Regions from separate parts of the Homo sapiens genome. Here region 1 is linked to region 2. Evidence: fine-mapped QTL for protein levels in blood plasma. Region 2 holds a variant in brackets. A gene starts in the other region. All regions are shown on their reverse strands.

Region 1 (14,412 bases), not on the chromosome of region 2:
TGTGGAGTACAGTTAGGCAACAGGAAATTAACAGCTGACCCCAGAGGTCAGGAAAGAGGGTGTACAAAAACTGAAATGTGCTTCTGCTTCCTGACAATGAGTCTGATGCCAGAAAGAGCAGAGGTTCCCCACCCACATCAGGCAGCCCTGGACTGCTTGACCCTGACTGATGACCCAGTGCCAAAGAGGAGGGTGGTGACCCATGGAGCCCAGGCCACCCCACCCCACCCACAGGAGCCATCAGGGACAGATGATGGTGTCTGAGAACACTCAGGCCATCAGTCCCTCCCCTGCCTCCCACCAATCCATTTTCCACCTGGCAGCCAGCCCAATTTTTTACAGATGCAAATAAAAATGTGTCACTCCTCACAGGAAGCCTGCTGTGGTGCTAGGAATCTGGGTGGTAGTTCCCAGGTACACATTTGTAAATACTGGTCTACGTCACTCTATGTAACTTAGGCCTCATAATTCTTTTTAAGGAACTTCCACTTGTGGGAAGATGGAGTAGGTATATTTTTTCCTGTACTTCCTGCTAAGTACAACTAAAAACCTGGGACATCACGTACAAGACAAACATGAGAAGACTCTGAAAGGTGGAGAAAAGAAGGCAGGCGGGCCAGGGACATCAGGACTGAGGACAGTGGCGACTCTCCTAGGCTTTCTTTTTGTCTCATTATCCCAGAATGGGTACTGGAGAAGCTGGCAGTCTGGAAATGCCAACAGCCACTACAAAAAAAAACCCTCAACAAAACCTGCTATCTGTAGCCAAAGGACCAGGAAAAGGGCGGCCTGGCAAGACAGAAAATTCCTAGGCAATAAATACCCTACTGCAGCCAAACGCCACAGGAAAGTATGCAGCTCCACCCACCCATGCCACAAAGGCTGAATGGGGAGACTAGACCTCCTCCTGACTAGGCAGTAACGAGGGGTCCCAACATCCCCAGCTGGGTGGTAACAGAGAAGGCCAAGTAGGAGCCAGGACTTGCATCCCAGCCATTACAGGTGCTCTCCCTGACCTTGCAGTGTTAGTGGAGACCACGTGGGGAGCTGAAACTTGCACCCTGTCCAACAGTAACAGGGAATCCCCCTCTTAAGTGTCAACAGAAGCAAACTGAGGAACCTGGACTTCTACCCCCACCTGGCGGTACTGAGGCAGTGCCACCCCTTTCCCGGCCAGAGGGGTGTCAGAGGCCAGCTAAAACAAGTTTAGGCTGGGTGTGGTGGCCAACACCTGTAATCCCAACACTTAGGGAAGTCAAGGTGGGTGAATCACTTGAGGCCAGGAGTTCCGGACCAGCCTGGGCAACATGGTGAAAGCCCATCTCTACTATCAGGTTGATGCAAAAGTAAGTGTTTTTGCCATTAATGGCAAAGTCACAATTACTTTTGCACCAACCTAATAAAAATACAAAATTTAGCCAGGCATGGTAGCATGTCCCTGTAGTCCCAACTACTTGGGAGGCTGAGGCAGGAGAATCGTTTGAACCTGGGAGGTGGAGGTTGCAGTGAGCCAAGATTACGCCACTGCACTCCAGCCTGGGTGACAGAGCAAGACTCAGTCTCAAAAAAACAAACAAACAAACAAACAAAAAACAGGTTTAAATAAGACCCAGCGTTTCATAACATAATACAAAATGTCCACGTTTCAATCAAAAAGTATTAATCATATAAAGAACCAGCAAATCTCAAACTGAATGACAAAGGATAACTGATAGATGCCAACACTGAGATGACTGGGATGTCAGGATTAGCTGACAAAGGTTTAAAATGGCTGTGATAAAATGCTTCAATGAGCAACTGCAAACACACTTGAAACAAATGAAAACATAGAAAGCCTCAGCAAAAAAAAAAAAAGAAAGAAAAGTAAAAGAAAAAAAAAAGAAGGAGCTATAAAGAACCAAATGGAAACTTTAAAACCAAAAAATACAATAATCAAAATAAAAACCTCAGTGGATGGGCTCAAGAGCAGAATGGAGAGGACAGAGGGAACAATCAGTGAATTCCAAGACAAAACAATAGAGCTACCTAATCTGACAAAAGAGAGAAAAAAGACTGGAAAAAATATGAACAGACTCATGGACCTGGGGAACTATCGTACAACAAAGATCTAACATTTGTGTCACTGGAGTCCTTAGAGGAAAGAAGGAGTGTGAGGCAAAAAGAAGTACTCAAATCAATAATGGCTGAAAACTCCCCAAATTTGACAAGAGACATAAGCCAACAACAGATTAAAAAGGTGAGCAAGCCGGGCTCGGTGGCTCACGCCTGTAATCCCAGCACTTTGGGAGGCCGAGGCAGACGGATCATGAGGTCAGGAGATCGAGACCATCCTGGCTAACACGGTGAAACCCCAACATGGTGAAACCCCGTCTCTACTAAAAATACAAAAAATTAGCTGGGCGTGATGGCAGGTGCCTGTAGTCCTGGCTACTCAGGAGGCTGAGGCAGGAGAATGGTGTGAACCCGGGAGGCAGAGCTTGCAGTGAGCCGAGACTGTGCCACTACACTTCCAGCCTGGGTGACAAAGCAAGACTCTGTCTCAAAAAAAAAAAAAAAAAAAGGAGTGACCAAATCCTAATCAGGATAACTCCCAAAAATTCATGGCAAAACACATTATAAATTTCTGAAAACTAAAAACTAAGAAAATAATATATAAAGCACCTAGGCAAAAATGCTTTATTTACAGGGGGAAAGCAATTTAAATGACAACAAACATCTCTTGAAAAACCATGGAGGCCTAAAAGATGTATCACAATATTTCTCAGGAAAAAAAAAAAATCTCCAGCCCCACGTGATTTCCCTGAAGAATTCTACCAAACTTTTACAAAAGAATTAACACAGGGCCAGGCTCAGTGGCTCATGCCGATAATCCCAGCACTTTGGGAGGCCAAGGACGGAGGATTGCTTGAGCCCAGGAGGGTGAGGCTGCAGGAAGCCATGATCACACCACTGCACTCCAGTCTGGGTGACAGAGTAAGATCCTATTTCAAAAAAACAAACAAAAAAAAGAATTAAAACTAGTTATATAAAATATCTTCCAGAAAACGGAAGGAAAGAGAAGGAAATACTTCCCAATTCATTACAAAGCTATTATGACCCTGTATCAAAACCAAAGATGGTACTTAAAAAAAAGTTCAGACTAATATTCCTCATGAATAGGTGCAAAAATTCTTAACAGAATATTACCAAATAGAATTCAGCAATATAAAAATAATTCTACACTATGACCAAGTGTAATTTATTCTAGAAATGAGAGATTGGTTCGATATTTGAAAATCAATCAATATAACCCACCAAGTGAATAGGCTAAAGAAGAAAACCCATAGGATTATATCAATCAATGTGGAAAAAGTATTTGAAAAAATTCAACACCCCATGAATGATAAATTGTCAGAAAAGTAGGAATACAGGGGAAATTTCTCAACTTGATAAAGAGCATCTACAAAAAACCTACAGGTAACATTATTCCTAACAGTGAAAGACTGAATGCTTGCTTTCTTTTTTTTTGAGACAGGGTCTGACTCTGTCACCGTGGCTGGAGTGTAGTGGTGCAATCACAGCTCACTGCAGCCTCAATCTCCTGGGCTCAAGTGATCCTCCCACCTCAGCCTCCCAAAGTGTTGGGATTACAGGCGTGAGCCACCGCACCTGGCCTTGGATGCTTTTTTGCTAAAATCAGGAACGAGGCAATATCTGCTCTCATCATTCTTATTCAACACAGGATTAGAAATTCTAGCCAGTGCAGTAAGACCAGAAAAGGAGATAACAGATATACAAATAGGAAAGGATGAAATAAACTTTCCCCTATTTGCAGATGACCTAATTATCTATGTAGAAAATCCTAAGGAATCTACAAAAAGAAGGGGGAAAAAAAGAACTTGACTTCTATAAATATTAACTCAAAGTGGATCACCAACTTAAATGTAAAATTATAAAACTAGAAAAAAATAGAAGATCTTTGGGACCTAGGACTAGGCAAAAAGTTGCTAGATATAATACCAAAAACACAATCCATTAAAGTTGATTAATTCAACTTAATCAAAATTTAAAATGTTTGCTCTATAAAAGACTGGCCCTGTTAAGAGGATAAAAAGACAAGCCACAGAATGGGTAAAAATATTTGCAAACCACATAGCTGACAATGCACTAGTATCTAGAATACATAAAGGTCTCTCAAAACTCCAGCAGTAAAAAAGCAAATTGTCCAATTAGAACATGGGTTGGGGGAGCGGGTGCAGTGGCTCATGCCTGTAATCCCAGCACGTTGGGAGGCTGAGGCCAGAGGATTGCTTGAGTCCAGGAGTTAGAGACCAGCCTGGGCAACATGGCAAAACCACGTCTCTAAAAAATATACAAAAATTAGACAAGCATGGTGGCACACGCCTGTAGTCCCAGCTACTTGGGAGGCTGAGGTGGGAGGATGGCCTGAACCTAGGAGGTTGAGGCTGCAGTGAGCTGAGATTGCATCACTACACCCAGCCTGGGTGACAGAGCAAGCCCCTGTCTCAAAAATAAAAGAACATGGGCAAAAGACATGAACAGATTTTTCACTGAAAAAGATATACAGATGGCAAACAAGCACATGAAAAGATGTTCAACATCGTTTGCTATTAAATAATTCAAATTAAAATCACAAGACATCATTACATACATATAAGACTAAAAGTAAAAAATAACGACAATACTAAATGCTGGCAAAGATATGGAACAGCAATCATTCATTGCTGGTAGGAATATAAAATGGTACAGATACTTCAGAAGATAGTTTGGCAGTTTTTCACAAAACTAAACATAGTCTTACCATATGATCCAGCAATCATGCTCCTTGGTATTTACCCAAGTGAGTTGAAAATGTATGTCCACACAAAACCTGTACACAGATGTTTATAGCAGCTTTATTCATAATCACCCAAACCTGGAAGCAACCAACATGTCCTTTATTAAGTGAATGGATAAATAAACTGTGGTACATCCAGACAATTGCATATTATTCAGTGTTGAAAAGAAGTAAGCTAACACACCGTGAGAAGACATGCAGGAAACTTAAATGCATATTGCTAAGTGAAAGAAGCCAATCTGAAAAGGCTACAAATTATTATATGATTACAGCTATATGACATTCTGGAAAAGATAAAATTATGGAGACACTAAAAAGTTCAGTAGTTGCCAGGGGGTTAGGGGGAGGAAGAGATGGTTGGCAGAGCACAGAGGATTTTTAGGGAAATATATAATACAGGATCAATTTAAGAGATTCAATATCCAACTAATAAAATTATCACAAACAGAACAGAGAAAAGGGAGGAAAGAAATAGCCAAAGAAGTAATAGAAAAGAATTTTCTCAGAACTGAAGGAAACAAACCTCCACTCGCTGGCCAGCACAATGAAAGACTCAACCCCAGGACTCATCAAACACAGGGCTAGGGACTGCTGTTTCTCCATAAACGGCCTCCAAGTACCCCTCTTATCCCAATTATACACATGCATTTGTTTATTTAAACACAAAAAGACCTCTAATCTGTATGCTTTCTCCCCAGTTATGTAGCATCTACACATCAAAGTAAAATCAGGAACCTAAGTTACATTATCTCAATATACCCTAATCCCAAAGGCCCTTGGGATCAAGTTCAAATGTTTTAGCCTACATTCAACACCCTCCCCATCTCTAATCTGCCTCTTCTCTCTGCCACATCCTGAGCTCCATCAACTGATCTTGTCCCAAACTATAAAAAGGTGGGGAGAGACACTAAATCCCTCCTAAAACCTTCCCCCATGTTACAGAAATAAGACAGAGTGTTCCCCACCACAAAATGTCTGTGTCTGCCCTTGGACACAGAGTTTGCCATTACCATCTCCACACTACGGCCTTCTGGACATGCCCTGTTCCAAACTTTGGCCCCACTCCTGCTACCTTCCTGCTTCATTTTTCATAGTACTTATCATTTCACTTTACTTTTCTTTCTCTTCTGTAGCTCCAGGAGGGCTGGAGATTCTGTCTTGTGCACGGTTGCCTATAAAGGGTTAAAGAGTGCCTGGTGCTTCTAAGATGCTTGTTATGGGATGAATCGTGTACCCCAACATTCACACTGAAGCTGTACCATGCACTACCTTGGAATGCAACTATATTTGGAGATACAGCCTTTAAAGAGGTAGTTAAGGTAAAATGAGGTTACGAGGATGGGCCTGATTCCAATCTGACCTCATATTCCACAGCACCCACTCGGAACACCACATCTGTGTCCTGCCAAATGATGACTGTGCGAGCCCCTGCCCCCTCTCCTCTCCAACTCGGGTAGCCCTAGGCTTCACCCGTCTTCCAAACAGTCGTTCTCACTTTGCTGCAGCAGCGGCCTCTGGGAAAGGGCCCTTGGGTTTGGGCAGCTCAGCCTGTCAACCCAAGTCTGTCCTTCTGGCACACAGCTCCTCTTTCTTGGAGCCCCTTTGCTTGGCCTGGGTTGGGGGGACCCACCATCTCTTCTCCCTAGGTGCTCTCTGCTTTGATGAGTTTCCTTCAAAAACTCTCCTCAGGCTTCTCTAGCTCCGGATACAGGAGGGTGGATAAAGGAGCAGTCTAGCTGCCTGCCAGCAAGACACACAGGGAGGTGTCTGCACCTGCAGAGAGAATAGGGGTCTTGTCCTTAGCTGTTGTCCAAAACAACAGAAAATGCTCCACTCCACAGGCTGCTGTGCTTTTAGAGGAAACCAAAGTAAGACCTTGAGTCAGTCAGGGTCCTCTCAGGAAACAAAGGGTGAACTCAGCTGTTTGGGTTTTTTTTTTTTAATTCAGAGAATTTAATGAAGGGACTATTTACTTGGGTGTGAACATTAAGAAAACCAACATGGGGCATTGAGGCATCCTGGGGCTAGCAAGGATGACAGCCCTCATCATCCCAGCCTAAGGGGCAAGGGGAGGAAACAGGGTTACTGGAGACAGTGAGGGAGGTTATGGCAGGAGATGTCATCAGGAGGTGGGGGGGAGGGGCGGGAGGGACAGCGGGCACAGCTACGGCCAAAACTGCAGTGCTCATCAGGACAGGAGCTGGGAGAAATACTTCAACCTCTCTCTTCTCCCATCTCCTGCTGGTGTCTCCCATTAGTCAAACCCAGCTGGAAGCCAGGGGCCATGGAAACCCAGCGATGTCCTCCCTACAGGGCAGCCCCCACACCAGGCACAGAGGAGGATGTGGGTGGATCAGGGAACGCAGAGAACAACCAGCACAGGCCTAACCCAGGGGCGGAAGCCATACCAACTTGAGCAAATGTCTTACCAAAATGACATCGAGGAAGCACAGGGGGTCATCTGTTTTTACTGAGCCATCTGGGTTTGACAATATTACAGCATACATTACAATGACTATTACAGAGGGTATTTAGTGGAGACTTTTTTGTACACTTGCAGCCACTTCTCCTCCTAGTCTCACACTCGTTTTCTGTATTATAGTCAGGGATGCCTCTCTCCCTGAATCAGTCCAGTTTCCATCAAGTAACACTCAGGTTAGGACAATTTGAGTAGCATTTAATAAAAGGACTATTTGCTGAGGTGTAAGCAGGAGATGGCCCCCTATCTCTGGGCTGGTAACACCAGGGCTGTCAACACCCCTAGACCTGAAGCGGGCAGAGGAGGAAGGAGTCACCCACAGTGAGTCAGGAGGCTGTATGGAGATGGCTACCTGGCAGGACTTGAGACTGTTGGCTGAGAAACAAAACCAGTGTGTGGGGACTCTACAAGGAGGGGAATGAATATTCCTACTTCATTCTCCTTCCCGCTGAATCCTGATAAGCTCCTCATTGGCTGGACCCAATCAGAAACCAGAGGGTGAGGCTGGCCTTCCGGGGCCCAGGGCAGTAGGGAGAAAGGTGGGGAGGCAAATGAAAGGTGTCCAACTGCACTCCCCTTGCCAAGGGATGCATAAAATTACCCAAGCAAGGCCAATGGGATGGACCCTCCTCACTCCTGGAATCTGGCAGACAGACAAAGCCATAGCCATGTGCATTGAGCAGCATCAACCCAACATTGTCCCACCACAGGACCCCCACTGAGGGCCTGCTTTCCAGAGCCCAGGGCAGCCTCAGCTCCCACCCACCCCTAGTCTAGACTCCCAGCAAAGCCTCCCAACAAAGTCAGAGTTAGTGTCTGTTGTTGGCAATGACAGAATCTAGACACAAACATCTTTATGCATGTGAGTTGGGGGTCTCTTTCAAAAACATCAGCAGGCAGAGCAAACTGATCACTGGGAGGGCTGAGAACCAAGCTCAGGGCTTTGCAGCCTAAGCCTAAGCCAGTGTCACTCAGCACTGTGCTTGCCAAGCCACCACCAACCACCCAGAGAAACTAGGACCCAGACAGCACTGGGGTCACCATCGCCCCAGGAATGGATTCTTCCTGCTTCTGCTTCTCAAATCACTTTCTCCCAAAATGAAGCCCAGGACCGTGCATTTTATCAGCTAAACCAAGGCCATGTGCCTTCAATCAAACTGCAAGGAACCCTGGAAATGTGAACACCCAGCATTCTAGTTAGGAGAGGAACACCCCAAATGTGGGAAGAGGTTTCCCATGCTGGGCAGCCAACAAGTAATGTCCCCCAGCTGTATCTGTAGCCTCTTCAACATGTCAGAGTATTTCCTCCAGACAACACCTTAGAAGGATTACCGACTCTGGGCATGTTATTACCAAATTTCTTTACCACAAAAGTTAAACTAATTTCCAGCCACATCCAGTGAACACAGTGCCTGCTTTGCTGCACCCACACACATTATTGCATTTTTTAAGTAAAAACTAATTGGCAAAATGTAATTGATACCTCGTATCTTAATTCTCTCTTTTCTAGGGGGAGAAGGAGTTTCTATGTTTGCTCATTAGTGGTATTCTCCAAAAGTCTTCAATACTTGACTTTGGACCATTTTAGTATTTGTTTTGATAACTGATTTTTTTTCATTATTTTCCCTTTTATAGACTTGTGTTAAAATTAGCTGGCATTTGCTGAAAGAAGAGATCAGGATTAGATTCAGCTGTGTGTAACAGAAAAAAAAACAACAGACACTTAAAATACATAGAAGTTTCTTTCTCTCCTGCATAAAAAAGGCCTAGAGGAGGGCAGTCCAGGGCTGTTTTTGTACCGACTCCACAAAGTCGTGAGAGGCTTTGCCAGTTCCTCCTCTGCCATTCCCTGATGAGGCCTCATCTTCCTCATCCCCACTGTCCAAGGTGGCAGCTAGAGCTCCAGCCATCACATCCAGCAGGACAGAGGGCAGGATGAAGAGGGACAAGCCACCTACCTTTACAACATACCTGTTGGCATCTTGTTGGCCAAAATTCAGATGTGTGACCTCACCTAGCTACAAGGGAGGCTGGACAATGAGCCCAGATAAAAATCAGGATCTTACTACTGAGGACTAAGGGAAGAACGAGTATTGAGAGCCAGCCAACTGTCTCTTCCACAGGCAAGCATACAAGCTGTGTTGAAGACAACCCATTCATATGAGAATCATGATGTTTATGATGACGATGACGATAGCTAATATTTACTAAATAGCTGCCATTTGTAGGCACTGTTTTAGGAACTTGATATGTATTACTTAATCCTTACCACACCCCTATGAAGTAGATACTATGACTATCCTCATTTTACAGAGGAGGAAACCAAGGCACAGAGAGACTAGGTAATTTTTGCAAGGTCACCCAGCTAACAGGCAACAGAATCTAGATTTGAACTGAGGTAGCCTGACACAAGACACAACTATGAATAGAGGCAATCACAGAACCAAGTCAGGGAGGCCAACTGGGGCTTTGCCAAGGGGCTTATCTATTGACTCAGGAGTGGAGAGATGGGACCTAAGCCAGAGCTGCCTCATCACTTTGCCTTTGAATATTTCATCTGTTCATCCATTCAACACAAATGTCCTTTTGTAATACACCTTACATTTGCAATTCACTGTCCAAAACCTGTGCTTGCCACTCCTTGTGGGGCAGATACTGTATCCTCAGCAGCCAGCATAGCCTATAGCACACAGCGCTCAAAAGATATCTGTGAGCCAGGTGTGCTGGCCCTGTAGTCCCAGCTTCTTGGGAGACTAAGGTGGGAAGAACATTTGAGGCCAGTTCAAGACCAGCCTGGGCAACATAGGGAGACCCCCCCCATCTCTACAAAAAAATTAAAAAATTAGCTGGGTGTGGTGGCACACCTGTAGTCCTAGCTCCTTAGGAGGCTGAGGTGGGAGGATCACTTGAGCCCAGGAGCTTGAGGCTGCAGTGAGCTATGATTGCACTTGGGCAACAGGGCAAGGCCCTGACTCTAGTATCTTATCTATATATAGATATAAATACGTAAGTGACTGTGCATGTACATATCAAGCCTACTCTGTGCCAGGCTCTGTGATGGGCACTGAGCATGCAGAAATGAGACACACACCCTGCTCACTGGCCCTTATGGCCAACAAAAGGAGGCAGATGAGCGGGCACCACAAGGAGCAGCACAAAAGAGTGGGGACCTCCATGGTGAAAAGTCTGGAGTGGCTGCACTGTAGTTTATGAGTCACAGCAATAAGGGACAAGGTCCTCAAGGTAGGCCAGAGACAGACTTGAAATTCCTTTCATGTCCAAGGTGAGAAACCTAGCCTCAGCCCTGAGGCAATAGGGAGCCATGAGGCTTTAAGCAGGGTGACATAATCTGAGAGGCCATCTAGAACAACTCTCCTGGTAGTGTGCCAAGGATAGGAGGAGAGAGCCCAGAAGTAGGGAGATTCAGATGAATCTGGGAGGTGTGGGAGCCAAAGTGAAGGGTTTGGAAGAAGAAAGGAGGGGTGGAGTGAGGAGAAACAAAAGAGGTCCCATACCTATTGCATGTGAGCCAGATGGGCCAGGGAACTGTGGGAGGGGAAAAGAGTGGGCCTGAGGTGGCCAGAGTGAGGGGGGCTGGGGAGGGGGACTGGAGAGGGGCCCTGGCCTGAGCTGGGGCAGACAGAGCAGTTGGACGCCAGCAGCCTTGTGCTCATGGCTCAGAAATGTCCCAGGCCTGCCAAGAAACTGCTGCCTCTGTCCCCCCACCAGCCCCAGCCAGGCTCCCACATCAGGAGCTCTGAAACTGTCCCCTCAGCCTTCTGCTCCCCCAGAGCAGGCCTCCCGTCCCCAGAAGCCAGGCATATGACACCCCCACTCTCCCTCAGCCCTCCCCCTCAATGGCTGATGAAACACAGGCCAGGGAAGGAGGGGAAAGAATAAACAGACATCTGCAGGGGGGCCCATCAGGAAGTAGGGGGCAGGCTGCGGCGGGCTGGGGCTGCCTGGGGGCGCCAGGGGGCCCACAGGTCTAGCAGGGTGGGTGGCAGATGGCGGATAGCGGATGGAGTGGGATCCAGGGAACAGTTGGAGCCAGCAGGGAGTTAACGTCTGCAGTACTTTGCCCGACAGGACTAATGAGACACAGGTGGTCCCCTGGCTCCAGCCCCACCTCCCAGCCCCCTGATAGTGTAAACTGATGCTGGTTGTCTGGGGTGGGGAGAGGGGGGTTCTGCAGCTACGGGAAGGGGGGCGGGGCTGGGGCGGCTGGCGGGGGCCCAGCGCATAACTCTGGGCGGTTGCAGTCTGGGGCCGCAGACACCCAGCCACTCTGAGCAGAACTGACAGCATGAAGGTACGGGGCCCAGGGTCGGGGGACTCATAGCATGGGGGAACTGAGCCCACTCCAGAGGCCCCTGGCCACAGAGGGCACTATGAAGGCACAAGGAGTTCTCTTGAAACTCGTAAGCTATGAGGGTACACAGCGTCCCAGAGAGTGGGGTTACTTGGCGGGCGGGGTGGGGGGGCAGGGAAGAGGGGCCAAATAGCAGGAGAGGGATTCAGGCAAGGGCAGTATGTGCATGCATGGTGGGGGCAAATGCAAAGAGAACAGGGGATCTCTGGAGCTGGGAAGGGGCTGTGCTGACCCTGTCTGCCCATCGCCAGGCACTCCTGGCCCTGCCGCTGCTGCTGCTTCTCTCCACGCCCCCGTGTGCCCCCCAGGTCTCCGGGATCCGAGGAGATGGTAAGCAGCCCCACACTCACAGACGCGGCCTGGCCCACAGGTTGTGCAAGAAGAGGCTGGACTGTCAGAACAGACTGTCAGGGCCGAGCCCCAGCTCTGCAGGACTCAGGTTCCTCCTTTACAAAATGGGGCAGATGGATGACATAAGCATTGCTCATCTCCCTTGAAGAAATCTTCCATGACTCCTTGTGTCAAAGTCCCCCAGCCCCAGGGACTGAGGCAAACCTTGGGGTGCTGAGGTGTCAGTGATGCCATAGTCCCACTCTCCTCACTGTCCCCATGTCCCTACCCCCAGCTCTGGAGAGGTTTTGCCTTCAGCAACCCCTGGACTGTGACGACATCTATGCCCAGGGCTACCAGTCAGACGGCGTGTACCTCATCTACCCCTCGGGCCCCAGTGTGCCTGTGCCCGTCTTCTGTGACATGACCACCGAGGGCGGGAAGTGGACGGTGAGTGGGAGGAGGGAACAGAGGCCAGAGCTGGTTCTAATCCCAGCCCTGTGACCCTGGGCTTCACATATGCGAACCTCAGTTTCTTCATCTTTAAAATGGGGATAATGATACCCACAGCACAGCTTCTGAGCAGCTGCCAACGCTTAATTCTAAGTGCCTGAGGTAGGTGTTTGTTTGTTTGTTTTGAGGCGGAGCCTCACTCTGTCATCCAGGCTTGAGTGCAGTGGCTCCATCTCAGCTCACTGCTGGAAACTCCACCTCCCAGGTTCAAAAGATTCTCCTGCCTCAGGCTCCCGAGTAGCTGGGATTACAGGCATGTGCCACCATGCCCAGCTAATTTTTTTATTTTTAGTAGAGATGAGGTTTCACCATGTTGGCCAAGCTGGCCTTGAACTCCTGACCTCAGGTGATCCGCCCGCCTCAGCCTCCCAAAGTGCTGAGATAACAGGCGTGAGCCACCGCGCCCAGCTGAGGTAGGTTAATGCACATAAGCCTCACAATAATCCTGGGAAGTAGTGAGGAACTAAAGCCCAGAGAGGTGAAGTAACTTGCCCAGATCCCACAGCTAGGCACTCGAACTCTAGAACGCCTCCCTCTTAGCCTCTTTCCTGCCTCTATACGAAACTGGGTATGAAGAGCCCAGGTGGGTGCTGGCAACTGCTCCACAGGGGGCCTGGTGCCAATGTGGACGTTGTTTTAGCAACCCCACTCCCACCACCCTCCCCACCCCCAACCCAGTCCTTTAACAAACTGGCCACAGCATCACAGGGTCCATGCTTGAGGTGGGCAGGGCAGGACCAGAACCTTGCCCATTGGACCCTTGATGATCCAGTCTCATCTTCTCTGCTCCAGGTTTTCCAGAAGAGATTCAATGGCTCAGTAAGTTTCTTCCGCGGCTGGAATGACTACAAGCTGGGCTTCGGCCGTGCTGATGGAGAGTACTGGCTGGGTAAGGCAGGGACCAGGTGGGCTGAGGGGCTGCCCCAGGGCCAGGTCCTTGTTGACCAGCTGCCCCTCCTCCCCAGGGCTGCAGAACATGCACCTCCTGACACTGAAGCAGAAGTATGAGCTGCGAGTGGACTTGGAGGACTTTGAGAACAACACGGCCTATGCCAAGTACGCTGACTTCTCCATCTCCCCGAACGCGGTCAGCGCAGAGGAGGATGGCTACACCCTCTTTGTGGCAGGCTTTGAGGATGGCGGGGCAGGTATAACCCGCTGTTAGCTTTGGGAGGGGCTGTGAGGGGAAAGAAGGCAGGGCTGGCCCTGCCCAGTCAGCCCCAACCTCCTTCAGGCCCCTCCTTCAACCCTTCTGGATCTGGAAGGGCCACAGCTGGCTCCAAACAAGCTCAAACCAGCTTGGGCCTCAGCCCTGGGGAGCAGCCATCCTGGCCCTGCTCCAGGCAACTCTGTGGTGGAGCAGCTGTTTCTCTTCATTGCAGAAGCACATCAACCCAACATCTGGCTCAGGGAGGGTGCCCCCATCCCGCCAGGCTGCCACGTGATATCTCTCACAGTCGTCATTGTCACCCTCTCCCGGCCAGCTCGGGGCTCAGTTCCCTGCCTCAGCAGCCCCAACCCTTCTCTCCTCTGCCAGGTGACTCCCTGTCCTACCACAGTGGCCAGAAGTTCTCTACCTTCGACCGGGACCAGGACCTCTTTGTGCAGAACTGCGCAGCTCTCTCCTCAGGAGCCTTCTGGTTCCGCAGCTGCCACTTTGCCAACCTCAATGGCTTCTACCTAGGTGGCTCCCACCTCTCTTATGCCAATGGCATCAACTGGGCCCAGTGGAAGGGCTTCTACTACTCCCTCAAACGCACTGAGATGAAAATCCGCCGGGCCTGAAGGGCTGGCCCCCTCAGGCACCTTTCCTCCCCTGGACACCCATGGTCTCCATGAGTGCTCCCTCTGCTGCCCCTGATGCATGCTTCTGCTGATTCC
Region 2 (15,038 bases):
CTATTTGAAAGGCTATGATCAAAAATCAGAAAACAACAAGTATTGGGGAGGATGCAGAGGAACTAGAATCCTTGTGCACTGCTGGTGGGAATGTATAGCACAGCCACTACAGAAAACAGTACACTAGCTCCTAAAAACACTAAAGACAGAATTATCATATTGTTCAGCAATTCCACTTCTTGGTATATACCCAAAGAAATAGAAAACAGGGAGCTTAACAAGTACTAGCATGCCAGTGTTCACTGCAGCATTATTTACAATAGCTAAAAGGTAGAAACAACCCAAGTGTCCATCAGCAGAAGAAGGAATAAACAAAATGTGGTATACCCATACACTGAAACATCATTCAGACATAAGAAGGAACGAAGTTCTAACATAGACTACACCATGGATAAACCCTGAAGACCTCATGCTAAGTGAAATATGCCAGACACAAAAGGACAAACATTGTATGATTACTTTTTTTTTTTTTTTTTTGAGACAGAGTCTCGCTCTGTCACCCAGGCTGGAGTGCAGTGATGCGATCTCGGCTCACTGCAAGCTCCGCCTCCTGGTTTCATTCCATTCTCCTGCCTCAGCCTCCCAAGTAGCTGGGACTACAGGTGCCCGCCACCACACCTGGCTAATTTTTTTTGTATTTTTAGTAGAGACGAGGTTTCACCGTGTTAGCCAGGATGGTCTCGATCTCCTGACCTCGTGATCCACCTGCCTCAGCCTCCCAAAGTGCTGGGATTACAGGCATGAGCCACCGCGCCCGGCCATATGATTACATTTATATGAGTTATCTAGAATAGTCAAAATCACGGAGATAGGAAGTAGAGGCCAGGCACAGTGGCTCATACATGTAATCCCAGCACTTTGGGAAGCCGAGGTGGGTGGATCACGAAGTCAGGAGTTTGAGACCAGCTTGGCGAACATAGTGAAACCCCATCTCTACTAAGAATACAAAAATTAGCCAGGCATGGTGGTGCCTGCCTGTAGTCCCAGCTACTCGGGAGGCTGAGGCAGGAGAATCACTTGAACCCAGGAGGCAGAGGTTGCAGTGAGCCGAGATCACACCACTGCACTCCAGCCTGGGCAACACAGCGAGATTCTGTCTCAAAATAATGAATGAATGAATGAATGAATGAATGAACGAACGAACGAATGAATGAATGTAGAACAGTAGTTGCCAGGGGTTGGGGGTGAGGGGGAATAAAGAGTTTTCATTTAACTGGTGTAGAATTTCAGTATGGGATGACGAAAAAATTCCAGAGATAGACAGTGGATGACAGTTACACAACAATGTGAACATACTTAATGCCATGGAACTATATACTTCAAAATGGGCAGGGCACAATGGCTCATGCCTGTAACTCCAGCTTTCTGGGAGGCCAAGGTAGAAGGGTCTCTTGAGGCCAAGGGTTTGAGACCAGCCTAGGCAACATGGCAAGACCCCATCCATACAAAAAATTTAAAAAATCAGCCAGGCATGGTGGCACATGCCTATAGTACTAGCTACTGGTGAGGCTGAGGCAGAGGATCACTTGAGCCCAAGAGTTTGAGACTACAGTGAACTATAACTGCATCACTGCACTCCAGCCTGGGAGAGAGAGCAAGACCTTGTCTCCAAAAAAAAAAAAAAAGGTAAAAATAGCAAATTTTATGTTACGTACGTTTTGCCACAATAAAAATAAATTATAAACAACCATAGGGGAAAAGCTTCATGATCCTGACTTTGGCAACAGTTTCGTAGCATGACACCACAAGTACAAACAAAAGAAAAAAAACAGATAAATTGGACTTCATCAAAATTTAAAATTTTTGTACATCTAGAGACACCACCAAGTGAGTGAAAAGACAACCACAGAATGGGAGAAATATTTCCAAGTCACCTATCTGATAAAGCAGGGCTCCCCAACCCTGCTTTATCCCCGTTAGGAACCAGGCCACACAGCAGGAGGTGAGCAGTGGGTAAAGAAGCAAAGCTTCAACGATATGTATTTACAGCCACTCCCCACTGCTCACATTACCACCTGAGCTCCGCCTCCTGTCAGATCAGCAGCAGCATTAGACGAACCCTGTTGTGAACTGTGCATGCAAGGGATCTAGGTTGCATGCTCCTTATGAGAATCTAATGCCTGGCTGATATGGTTTGGCTGTGTCCCTACCCAAATCGTATCTTGAATTATATCTTCCATAATCCCCCATGTGTCGTGGGAGGGACCTGGTGGGAGGTAATTGAATCATGGGACTGGTTACCCCCATGCTGCCATTCTCATGAAGATGTGATGGTGAGTTCTCACAAGATCTCATGGTTTCACAAGGGGCTTTTCCCCCTTTTGCTTGGCACTTCTCCTTGCTGTTGCCATGTGAAGAAGGACATGTTTGCTTCCCCTTCTGCCATGATTGTAAGTTTCCTGAGGCCTCCCCAGGCATGTTGAACTATAAGTCAATTAAACCTCTTTCCTTTATAAATCATCCAGTCTCAGGTATGTCTTTATTAGCACCGTGAGTACAGACTAATACACTGATGATCCGAGGTGAAGCTGAGGCAATGATGCTGGTACTGGGAAGCAGCTGCAAATACAGATTAACATTAGCAGAGAGGTTTGACAATCAATTGCTTGCAGACTCATCTGAAACCCTATCAGTGAGTGGCAAGTGACAATTAAGCTGCATCAGATGGCACGCTTTACAGTGGCAAGTGAGTTAATGTACTTAACACAGCTGTATCTGGTGGCAGGCTTTAAGTCACAATCCGACACTTAATTTACTCCTCGAATAGCCCACGCATTATTTTATTTACAGTCCATGCCTCTTTCCCACATGGTGCACTTGTCTCAGTCACAGTTTTGGTAAGCCCACAAGCTAGCTCTAGGCAAAATGAGTAAAAAACAAACATCACTGGAGAGCTTCTTTGAAAAGGGGGGAAGACTCAATGATGAGACAGCAGAAGACTCTAAGACATTCTAAGAATGCCAACAATAAAGAAAGCTGCATTTAAAAGAAAATACCGGCCAGGCATGGTGGCTCATACCTGTAATCCCAGCACTTTAAGAGGCCAAGGTGGGTGGGATCACCTGAGGTCAGGAGTTTGAGACCAGCCTAGCCAACATGGTGAAACTCTGTCTCTACTAAAAATACAAAAATTAGTCAGGCTTGGTGGCATGCGCCTATAATCCCAGCTACTCAGGAGGCTGAGCCAGGAGAATCGCTTGAACCCAGGAGGCAGAGGTTGCAGCGAGCCGAGATTGCACCACTGCACGCCAGCCTGGGCAACAGAGCAAGACTCCATCTCACAAAATAATTAATTAATTAATGAAAATACCAAGAGTCCTACTTAAATTACGGGTTCATTGCAACAAATGATTCACATTCTCCAAGTGCTTTGTATAAAATGTGGCAACCGGTTATCCAACAAAGCCATGAAACCTTCAAAACTGTCTCACCACATGGAGACCAAGCACCCTGCATTAAAAGACAAGCCTTTGGAGTTTTTCAAAAGAAAAAAAATGAAACACTAAGAACAGAAGCAATTATTGAAGGCCACCACTTCATCAAATGTGTCTGCACTTGAGACACATTCTTAGTGGCTAACCACATCGCTAAAACTAAGAAGCCCTTTACTATTGGTGAAGAGTTGATCCTGCCTGCTGCTGAGGACATTTGTCATGAACTTTTAGGAGAGGCTGCAGTTCAAAATGTGGCACATGTTCCTCTTTCGGCTAGTACTATAATTAGACAAATAAATAAAATAGCAGAAGATATTGAGGTACAATTGTAAGAGAGGATTGAGTCACTGTAGTATGCAATCCAGGTTGACAAGTCCAGCAATGTTGACAAGGCAACAGTGCTTGCTTTTGTGCGATATATTTTCAGGAGGATGCACATGAGGATATGTTGTGTGCACCTTTGTTGCCAACTAGCACCACAGCTGCAGAACTATTCAAGTCTTTGAATGATTACATATCAGGAAAACTAAACTGGTCATTTTGTGTCAGTATATGCATAGATGGAATGGCTGCCATGACTGGACAGCTTTCTAATTTCACTACTCAGGTCAAAGAGGTCACTTCAGAATGTAAGTCTATGCACGGTGTCAAAAAATGACAAAAAATGTCGCCTGAACTTAACAACATTTTACAGGATGTGATTAAAATTATCAACCACATTAAAGTACATGCCCTTAGCTCATTCTATTTGCACAGCTCTGTGAGGAAATGGACGCAGAGCATACATGTCTTCTCTTACACACAGAAGTGAGATGACTTTCTAAAGGTAGATCACTGGCCAGAGTTTTTGAGTTATGAAAGCAGCTCCAGTGATTTCTTTTAGAAAAACAGTCAGTCACTACTGGCAGCACATTTCAGTGACGCAGAATGGGTCACAAACTGCTTACTTGTGTGACATATTCAACCTGCTCAATCTGTCACTTCAAGGGAGAACAACAACTGTGTTCAAATCACCAGATAAAGTGGCTGCATTCGAAGCCAAACTGGAATAATGAGGGCGATGAGTCAACACTGGGATTTAGCAGAGATTTTTTTTTCTTTTTTTTTTTCTGTGATGGACTCTCACCCTGTTGCCCAGGCTGGAGTGCAGTGGCATGATCTCAGCCCACTGCAACCTCCACCTCCCGGGTTCAAGTGATTCTCTTGCCTCAGCCTCAGCCTCCCGAGTAGCTGGGATTACAGGCATCTGCCACCATGCCCAGCTAATTTCTGTATTTTTAGTAGCGATGGGGTTTCACCATGTTGGCCAGGCTGGTCTCAAACTCCTAACCTCAAGTGATCCTCCCACCTTGGCCTCCCAAAGTGCTGGGATTACAGGAGTGAGCCACTGTGCCCGGCATTTTTTTTTTTTTTTTTTTGAGATGGAGTCTTGCTCTGTTGCCCAGGCTAGAGTGTAGTGGTGTGATTTTGGCTCACTGCAACCTCCACCTCCCAGGTTCAAACGATTCTCCTGCCTCAGCCTCCCCAGTAGCTGGGATTATAGGTGCGTGCCACCACGCCCAGCTAATTTTTGTATTTTTAGTAGAGATGGGGTTTCACCATGATGGCCAGGCTAGTCTCAAACTCCTGACCTCAGGTGATCCACCTGCCTCAGCCTCCGAAAGTGCTGAGATTATAGGTGTGAGCCACCATGCTTGGCGAGCAGAGATTTTACAAGAGACTGAGCCAGGGCCTTCTTTCTCCCAGCTGGTGCATGATCACGTATCTCAGCTTTCAAAAGAGTCTGAGCATTACTTCCAAACCACAAAAGACCCCCAAACTGGGAAGGAATAGATCCACGACCAATCTGTGAATAAACCAGGTGAATTGACTTTGTGCATGCTAGAAGAGGATCAACTGCTTGAGATCACAAATGACAACAGCCTTAATGGTATGTTTGGGACAACTTCAAATCTCCATACATTCTGGATTAGAGTCAAGGCGGAATATCCTGAGATTGCCACAAAAGCACTGAAAAGCCTGCTTCCATTTCCAACATCCTATTTTTGTGCAGCAGAGTTTTCTGCAGTGATGGCAACCAAAGCGAGATTAAGGCATTGACTGGACATAAGCAACACACTTCTGGTGTCACTGCCTTCCGTCACCCCCAGATGGGACCATCTAGTTGCAGGAAAACAAGTTCAGGGCTCCCATTGATTCTACATCATGGTGAGTTGTATAATTATTTCATTATATATTACAATGTAATAAAAATAGAAATAAAGTACACAATAAATGTAATGCACTTGAATCATCCTGAAACCATCCCCTCATCCTGTCCATGGAAAAACTACCTTCCACAAAACCAGTCCCTGGTGTCGAAAAGCTTAGAGACTGCTGTATAAAGGATTAATATCCAAAAAATATAAAGAACTCCTACAAAACAACAAAAAACCAAACAACTCAATTAGAAAATGGGCAAGGCTTTGGAGACACCACTGCCCCCCAAAGCTCCCTGCCACCAGCCACCGTCAACCCCACCATGTTCTAGGCCATGGACAGCCCTTGAGCCACGTCTCCTTTGAGCTGTTTGCAGACAAAGTTCCAAAGACAGCAGAAAACTTCCATGCTCTAACCACTGGAGAAAAAGGATTTGATAATAAGGGTTCCAGCTTTCATATAATTATTCCAGGGTTTTTGTGTCAGAGTGGTGACTTAACATGCCATAATGGTGTGGCAAGTCCAGCTACAAGGAGATCTGATGAGAACTTCATCCTGAAGCATACACTCACTGGAACTAGCAATTTTCCTATAGATGTCAGTGAGGAAGAAACAAATATCCCTGTATTAACATCATAACCGTCATAATCACTTTTTTGTATTAATAATGTCAAATCACTAGAAACTCAGTTAAACAACTGATACTCAAGAAGTGGAACTGGTAGTAGGGGACCTTTTACTTTTGTAAAGAGAGGATTTATTGCTCTCAAGCATGTATCAATTTTGAAATTTTTCAAAATGCAAGTCTGTGGAGGAAATAATGCCCTATTATAACAAAAATGCAGAAAACAAGTACCCTCACTGTCCTGGAGGACAATCTGGCAACAGCTAATTTCAAACAACCAACTGCTCAAAAGTAGGAAAGTAAAGGATAGTATATCTGTATTACAGAACGGCAGTCTTAAAAGAGTGAAGAATCCAGATATTAGAACATGTTCAAAGTATAATAGATTTAAAATAAAAGTAGATTATAAGACAATATAAGCAGTATGGTTCCAAATTTATTTTAAATGCCTACTTAAATGTATATACAATAAAAAAAAAACTAAAAAGATATGACAATATGTTGAAAGGGGTTGTCTGGGTAATGAAAATAAGACATCACCTTTATGTTCTTTTTTGTATTTTTTTTGTATTTACTGACATTTCTGTAATGATATATACGTTATGTAATCAGAAGGAAATGTTACATAGGAAAATAAAAAGCTCAAATGTATTCAAGATACTGAATTCACAATATAGAAAAGACTAGATAAGTCATATTTTAGAAAAAATTCTAACAGAAATAGACAAAATCTCTTCTTGGTGCTCTTAAAGGTTTAACCTTGAGTTCCCTGGAAAAGTCACTCATCCAAAACACAGCATTCCCCAAAGATGTCAAACAAAAGAAGTATTGTCGGGATAAGTTCAAACTGCATCCCAGTTACCTGCTGTAAGATTTGTGGATCACTGTTGTGATGACTGTGAAACTGTAGGTGAGAGAGAGGGATTCATACTGGAATCCTAAGGCTCCCACTCAAAATCTGTCATCTGAACTTAGCCACAGGCACTAAGCCTCTCTAACAGGCTCAAGAAAGAGAAAGGCCAAGGGAAAAAAAGTACACTCATGATGTCACAAATTTCTAACAATCAAATATTATTAGGTTTACAGCCTGCCTTTTAAAATACCATCAGGATTAATAAAACAAAATAAAATTCTTCACTAGGTTGGAATCTTAATTAAGCATTCACCAGTCACTCACCATGAACTAGGTCCTGATGATACAAACATGAAGACAAAGTTCCTTATCCTCAAGAAACTCAGTCCCTGAGGCAGAGATGAAATTAAGCATGATCTAGAAGGATAAATGACATACTAGAGGTTGGTACCAACTGCAGTAGAAGCAGCAATGCTTATTTATATCAGGCAGAGTAGGGAAAGGCATAAAAAAGAGATGACATTTGAGCTTTTTCAGTTAACATTCCCCAAGCAGAGAAAGGGAATCATGGGATTCCAATGATATAACAACACCCTGAGTAAAGCAATAAAGGTAAGAACATTATAGTCCTGTCTGGAAAAGGGTGAGTTGTCCAGCATATCTAGAGTATAGAAAATGTGGAGAGAGACCCGGCATGGTGGCTCACGCCTGTAATCCCAACACTTTGGGAGGTCAAGGCAGGCAGATCACTTGAGGTCAGGAGTTCAAGACCAGCCAAGAGGAGAGGGGAGAGGGAGTGGGTGGGGGGGGGGGAGGAGAGCGGGGAGGGGAGGGGAGAAAAAATGTGGAGAGAATGTCAGAAACAAAACTCTGAGAAAAGTTTAGTGCCACCCTTCCTCCTGTACAGGAAGATGAAAATGAAGTTAACATCTTTTCAATGCTGATATTTCTTTCTCACTCCCCATGCTTTAGTAAGTCCATACAGACTTTTTAGCAGCATCTTTCCCCCTTGTTAAAACACCATAGCCATGAACTAAGGCTAAGGAGCCCATCCTAACCCCAAACATTATCAAGTTCACAAAGGTGGTACGGCTGGCACTATCATAAAATGTTCATACAGATAATCTGCATTCAAATCACAACACTGCAGACACTACTTGTTTATACACTAGACATAATTCCCCTCTAGGACAATAAAATTTTCTTCCTCTCCTGTCCAACATTTTTATTAGCCACTTGGAAAAACATAGAAGACAGGCTTATCAATTGCGTAAAGGTCCAAAGAAAATATAGTAATATCTTGGATCACAAACTTAAGCTTCAAAAAGATTTGACAGGTTGTACTCATGAGCTAAATACAGTGTTAATGTTAACGGAAATATAAAATACTTTTTAAATGAAACTAAAATTTTACATTTCTGTTTAATATCAATCACACAAGTTCAGGATGGAGGGGATATAGCTTGACTTCAGTTCATATAAAATAAAACCTAGAGTTGTTATAAATTCAGTATGAGCAATTAGTGTGAAATGGCACCTCAGAAGTCTCCAAAAAGCAGTCTTTATACCACATTAATAAAAATGTCCAATTCAATGCTACAAATACGTGTGTAAAACCTTCTGCATGCCTGGTTCTGAGGTGCGTCTGCCAAGAATGCAAAGATAGACCAGGCGCGGTGGCTCACGCCTGTAATCCCAACACTTTGGGAGGATCACAGAGTCTTACTCTGTCACCCAGGCTGGAGCGCAATGGCGCGATCTCAGCTCACTACAACCTCCGCCTCCCAGGTTCAAGCAATTCTCCTGCCTCAGCCTTCCGAGCAGCTGGAATTACAGGCGTGCGCCACCATGCCCGGCTAATTTTTATATTTTTAGTAGAGGCAGGGTTTCACTATGTTGACCAGGCTGGTCTCAAACTCCTGACCTCAAGTGATCCACCCACCTAGGCCTCCCAAAGTGTTGGGAATACCGACATAAGCCACTGTGCCTGGCCCAAATAAGAATTTTAAATGTATTTTTTATTGTAGGTCATAGTCAAAAGTTGGAAAGACATTAGTCTAATGAAGAGGATAAAGTAAATATACCACTACAAAATACAAAGTATAACAGGATTTAACAGAATAAAATATATCTGGTTGGAGAAAGAGAGGGGTAGGGCCAAGAATCTAGGAAAGGATTTACAGAGATAACAATATATGAGAGAAGTCTTGGCAGGCTGGAAATAATTTAAGAAATGAAGACATGGGGGAAAGGCACTCTGTGTAGAAGGAACAATATGAACAAAGACATGATGCAGCAAATATGTGTTTAATGGTCCTGGGACATGGCGGCACTAGTTATGAGTTAAGTACAAACAGAAGAACCTGGAGAAAGTTCAGTTTGGCTAAAGTGTAAAGTATTAACAAGTCAGTGGATGAGGCTGAACATGCAAATTTGAACCATAACATGAAAGTGCTGGATACATGATAAACCATGAATGCTAGCTGTTCCAACTAGTCTTAGCTCTGGGGCCTTAAACCATATTATCTCTAAGATTTCTTAGAGTTCTAAAGTTTATGACTTACTGAAGAGCTATGATGCAAGTTATTTATATGAAGGCACAGAACAAGGACTTATAAGAAACTACAGGGAGTCATTAGTCTACTCAATAAGGAAGAATGTTCTCATTACAGCTAACAATAAAATGGGCTGTCCCAAAAAGTGGTGAGGGCATTGGCAATAGATATGTTTGAATATAGGCCAAATACATATCTGTTGAAGGTATGGTACTAAATCAGTACTATCAAGTTCTGTGTTTATCACACTCTAATTCTTCTATCATGTTGGTTCTCACTTATTAGCAAGAGCTCATGAATGAGTTCCGAAGGGAGAGGGAGAATCATATTAAAGTAGGAGGATGGGATTTTATTCCATTGTAGATAAGCAGGAAAATGGGAAGCTTCTGAATGACATTTCCCAACATAGTAATTATCTTTACTAGAGTATCCCTAAGGTGTGATATAGCAAATCAACTGCAAGTACTTAGCTAAAATAATTTGGTGATGTATAAAAAAAATTTAAGGTTTTAAGAGCCTTTATGTGAAAAAAATGCTTGCTTCTCCCTGCAAAAGCTGTCAAAAGGGGGTATGCAAAACAATTAAATGCATAATCATAAACAGGTTTGGCTTGTTCATTACAATAAAAGCATAACATTGGAATTAAAATCCTAATATAGCATACCCAATAATGCTTACATGTTGGGAATAATTTCAGATCATTCTTAAAGAATAAAGACACAAAAATTTTAAAAAATTCAAAATACAAACTATTAAAAATTAAAATTTAGCACCAATGTAAAAATATGCTATGAAGGTTAAAGTACTTTCAACCTCAATGACCATTCTTTTGAGACTGCCCTGCTTCAGAATGCATCTAATACTACACAGAAATAGGTGCCATGTTTACAATTTAGCTTAATGTTTCTAAATCATATTCTAATACTGCATGATAAAACGAACTAGAAATCTGAAGTCTACTGAATAGACTTAAGATGATTAAAAACTTAAACATAAGACCCAAAACTATAAACCTACTAAAAGAAAACATAGGGAAAATGCTTCAGGACATTGGTCTAGGCAAAGATTTTATGACTAAGACCTCAAAAGCACAGGCCACAAAAACAAAAATAGACAAATGGGGCTACATTAAACTAAAAGCTTCTGCACAGCAAAGGAAAAAGAGTAAAGAGACAATCTACAGAATGGGAGAAAATATTTGCAAACTATTTATCTGATAAGGGACTAATATACAGAATATACAAGGAACTCAGCAGCAAAACCAAATAATCCCATTAAAAAGTAGGCAACAGGCTGGGCACAGTGGCTCATACCTGTAAACCCGCCACTCCCCAGGAGGGAGGGTCTCTTGAGGCCAGGAGCTCAAGACCAGCCTGAGTAAAATAGCAAGACCCAGTCTCTATAAAAAAAAAAAATTAAAAATTCGCTGGGCATGGTGGCATGGACCTGTTGTCCTAGCTACTGGAGAGGATGGCTTGAGCCCAGGAGTTCAAGGTTACCATGAGCTACGATCATGCCATAGCACACAAGCCTGGGTGACATAGCAAGACCTCGTCTTAAAAAAAAAAAAAAAAAAAAAAAAGCAGGGCACGGTGGCTCATGCCTGTAATCCCAGCACTTTGAGAGGTCAAGACGGGCAGATCACTTGAGGTCAGGAGCTCGAGACCGGCCTGGCCAATATGGTGAAACCCCGTCTCTACTAAAAATAGAAAAGAATTAGCCAGGTGTGGCGGCGCACACCTGTAATCCCAGCTACTCAGAAGGCTGAGACAGAAGAATCGCTTGAACCCAGGAAGCGAAGGTTGCAGTGAGCCGAGATCACCCCATTGCACTCCAACCTGGGCATCACGGCAAGACTCTGTCTAAAAAAAAAAAAAAAGAAAGAAAAAGAAAAAAATAGTCCAATACAGAAATAAAATTCCTTAAATATAACTATCCAGTTTAAATTGAAAACTGCAGAGTATGTCTTATCTTTCAAGCCACAGTCATATACTACTGACAATTCCTTTCAGAGGACACGGTGTAATAATACAATCTGTGGCTTAGAATCTCAAAGTCCTAGGTTCAAATCTCAACTCAGCACTTACTATCTAAAGTATCTTAGATCAGTTACTTAATTT[C/A]TCTCAGCTAAAGCTTCTTTCTCATCTGTTTAAAAAAGAGGGGAGAGGTGGTGATATAGTGTAAAGCTCAAGTAGAATCATGAATAAGGAAGTTCCCCATAAACACTAAACAAGACATCAAGCACATCCTCACTTTTCAGAACAAAATAAAGTCATAGGTCTATGAAATCTTTCCTACCCCTAGTGGATGATGTCTTTACCTCTAAAGGGGTATTGGGGCCCTTCCAGAGGTTGCAAAGGTTGGGCTTCCCTCACTGAATAAATAACTAAAGAGCACACTGTCTTCAGACTATTTTGGTGAGTTCTAGTCCATTTACCAACAGATTTACTCAAATTTTGTGAACACTAATTCTTCCAGATCTGGTTTCAAGGATCTATTTCCTCCCCACCTTCAGATTCTTTTCCTGCACCACAGGATCTTTACAAGTTTCTTTTAAGGACTCAGGATTTGTTTGTTTGTTTGTTTGTTTGTTTTTAAGTGCTTTTCTTCCCTATCTGGAGAAACCTAACCAAAAGGAAGTTAGGTAAAAATAATGCATAAAATACGCATTACTTTTTAAATAGGAAAAAATAAATATAACATTACAAAACTAAAATGTAAGGTCTTCAGATTGGTAATGAGAAAAATTTTTCATGTTCTACTAAGAGGGATTAATAAAAAATAAGCAATAAATGCCCTAAATTACTCAAAAATTTGCCTTAGCTGGGCACAGTGGCTCACAGGTATAATCCCAGTGACTTGGGAGGCTGAGGTGGGAGGATAGCTTGAAGCCAGCAGTTTGAGACAAGCCTGGGCAACATAGCAAGACCATGTCACTAAAAAAAATTTTTTTTAATTAAAATTTAAAAATTAGCCAGGCAAGGCTGGGCGCAGTGGTTCATGCCTGTAATCCCAGCACTTCGGGAGGCCGAGGCGAGCGGATCACAAGGTCAGGAGATTGAGGCCCTCCTGGCTAACATGGTGAAACCTCATCTCTACTAAAAATACAAAAACAAAATTAGCCGGGCATGGTGGCGGGCACCTGTAGTCCCAGCTACTCGGGAGGCTGAGGCAGGAGAATGGCATGAACCTGGGAGGCAGAGCTTGCAGTGAGCCGAGATCACGCCACTGCACTCCAGCCTGGACGACAGAGCAAGACTCCGTCTCAAAAAAAGAAAAAAAAAAATTAGGCAGGCAAGGTAGTAAACACCTGTAGTCCCAGCTACTTGGGAGACTGCTGCAGGGGGATCGCTTGAGCCCAGGAGTTCAAGGCTGCAGTAAGCTATGATCATGCCGCTGCACTCCAGCCTGGATGACAAGAGCAGGACCCCACCTCTCAAAAAAAAAAAATTGCCTAATGACAGCAGCAGAATAAACAAGATGACCTTCTGAAGCAGCTTCCACTTCTAAGACGTCAAACTAATACCTATGTACTCAAACCTTTACCACTTTTCTATTCAAGGAGTGTAATTACAAACATTTTTGTTTTAAAAACTGTTGGTGCTTGCTGCTCCTGCTGTTGCTCCTGTTAGAGGGTGAGAAAAGCATTTTCTTGGTTTTTGTATTCTATATTTGGTACTCTGGGTACAGTCAGTATAGGGAAAGACAGGTGTTTCACAAAAATAGCTGGATTTTTCTCACCTAATACACTTTAGAGCAGGAAGCTTCTTGGAAAGGTAGAATAAAGAATGGAAGGATGCAGGACTTTCCAAGCATTCATGGCAACAGAAAGGAAAGCAGAGATTCTCTAAGAGGGAAAGGGACATAAGAAGTCAAAACACGGGCGAACGGGTACAGTAAAGAACAGTACCTTACAGTACCACAAAAAGAAAGCAAGACAGTCAAGTATTTCACAAAATACTGCCCACTGCCAAGAAGAAAATTAAGAAAAATATACAATCGTTGAAGGACAAAAAAAAAAAAATTAACAACCTTTGGGATCCAGTTTCTTTATCTGTGTAATAATGATAACATTAAGACTACTCTGGGAATCGACATGGGGTTACCTAAGTGAGAGTCCCAGGCACACTGACAGGCCTATCACTGACCCTCAGAAAGGATAATGTCCTCCCCACTGCCTAAAATCACTCACAGAATATTACAATGGAAAGGGGGGCTCAGTCATCACCTCATCCTAAATGAATAAACCAAACAATTCAGTCATGTTATAACCTGTACAGAATTCCTATATTATAAAAAATTTAATAAGTATTACTACAGGATCTCAAAGCCTTATCAATGTCAAATACAAATGAACAGCTGCAGTGGAAAAAACCCTTTGTACTGCTGCAACAGGGGACTCCTTCCCTCACTAACATCAGGGCAAAAGGAGGCCCTCGAGGCCCTCCTCCACAAATTTCTCCAAATTGGTAGGAAGTAAGTGTAAGGGGTTTCCCTCCTTGCTATGTGATTATAGGTTGACAAACAAAGACACAAATCTGTGCTCCAAGTTAGTCATAAAAATCAAAGCTGAAACTCAAACATTTTCTCACAGGAAAATGATAATGGTTATATTTTCAAGCTAGCCCTCATAGCAATCAAATGATGCAGCAAAAATGCCGTTTTAATTGACTATTTTTCTCATAAGTATAATGTATAAGCTACTTTATAAAGTGGATTTTATGAAAAGTTCTAGAAGTGTAGCCCTAACATCCTTATGAAAAAAAATGTGTCCTGAGTTTTAAACAATTTACACAAAAACTTTTAGATCATAACTAAGGAAGGGACAGTGGAAGACTGTGAGATAAATAGAGAGTTGCTTGGTTTGGTAGAAAAGGCATCTAAGTTATGCTAAACCACAGCTGCTATGAAAATGTCTTCAGTGTAACTGTCTCTCTCATTTAGCAAGCATTAAGCTCTGCCCTGAGCCCAATGCTGTGGCCCTCCAAAGGGAATAACAATTTTTCTAAAGCTAAAAACACAATCCTAGGAATGCAAGAATTTCGTTGCATCTTGCTGGGAAAATCACACACCAAATCCTAGTGCTTTGAGATTCACATGTACCTATCTTGATTACCTTGCACTGGCTCTGTCTCAGAACACACTTAGTGTTATTAGTCTAAATACTAAGGGAAAAGAAGAAACTATTAAGCATTCAGCACGTTCTCATTTCACTTTCACAATCCTGTAAGATAGGTAAACATTATCCCCAATTTATACATTAATAAAATGACGTTAAATGATGTTAAATTACTTGCCCACACCACCAGTAAAGAGAAGCTAGGACTCTGAATTCCACTTTGTCCACTATTCAAGGGCTCCTCCCCCCACGC

Which allele goes with the higher level. Alleles are on the strand shown, and positions count from the first base shown. The strength of an association depends on the size of the effect and on how common the allele is.
For the plasma level of the protein whose gene starts at base 11,588 in region 1, allele C in region 2 goes with a higher level than allele A (weak association).

The links. PIP is the chance, under the fine-mapping model, that this variant and not a neighbour inherited with it causes the effect. Protein levels are from antibody-based Olink assays in UK Biobank. Linkage for the fine-mapping came from a reference panel and not from the study's own genotypes, which makes the PIPs less certain.
Region 1: MFAP4 starts here. The variant in region 2 is fine-mapped to the plasma level of the MFAP4 protein (UK Biobank, PIP above 0.99).

Annotation. Positions count from the first base shown.
Region 1 is chr17:19,384,366-19,398,777 of GRCh38, reverse strand. It overlaps MFAP4 (microfibril associated protein 4), which reads left to right and starts at 11,588. Exons shown (of 6, transcript NM_002404.3): 1 at 11,588-11,628; 2 at 11,940-12,018; 3 at 12,314-12,468; 4 at 13,324-13,420; 5 at 13,497-13,679; 6 at 14,069-14,412. The coding sequence starts at 11,623. The coding sequence ends at 14,316. RefSeq lists enhancers at 6,759-7,672, 11,663-12,208, 12,209-12,754, 12,755-13,300.
Region 2 is chr3:50,676,723-50,691,760 of GRCh38, reverse strand. The region is part of intron 1 of DOCK3 (dedicator of cytokinesis 3); the gene reads right to left. It also overlaps the pseudogene PPIAP69. Among named protein-coding and RNA genes, the nearest start is that of MIR4787, 9.2 kb to the right of the region's middle. The variant C/A (reference allele first, on the strand shown) is at 11,787.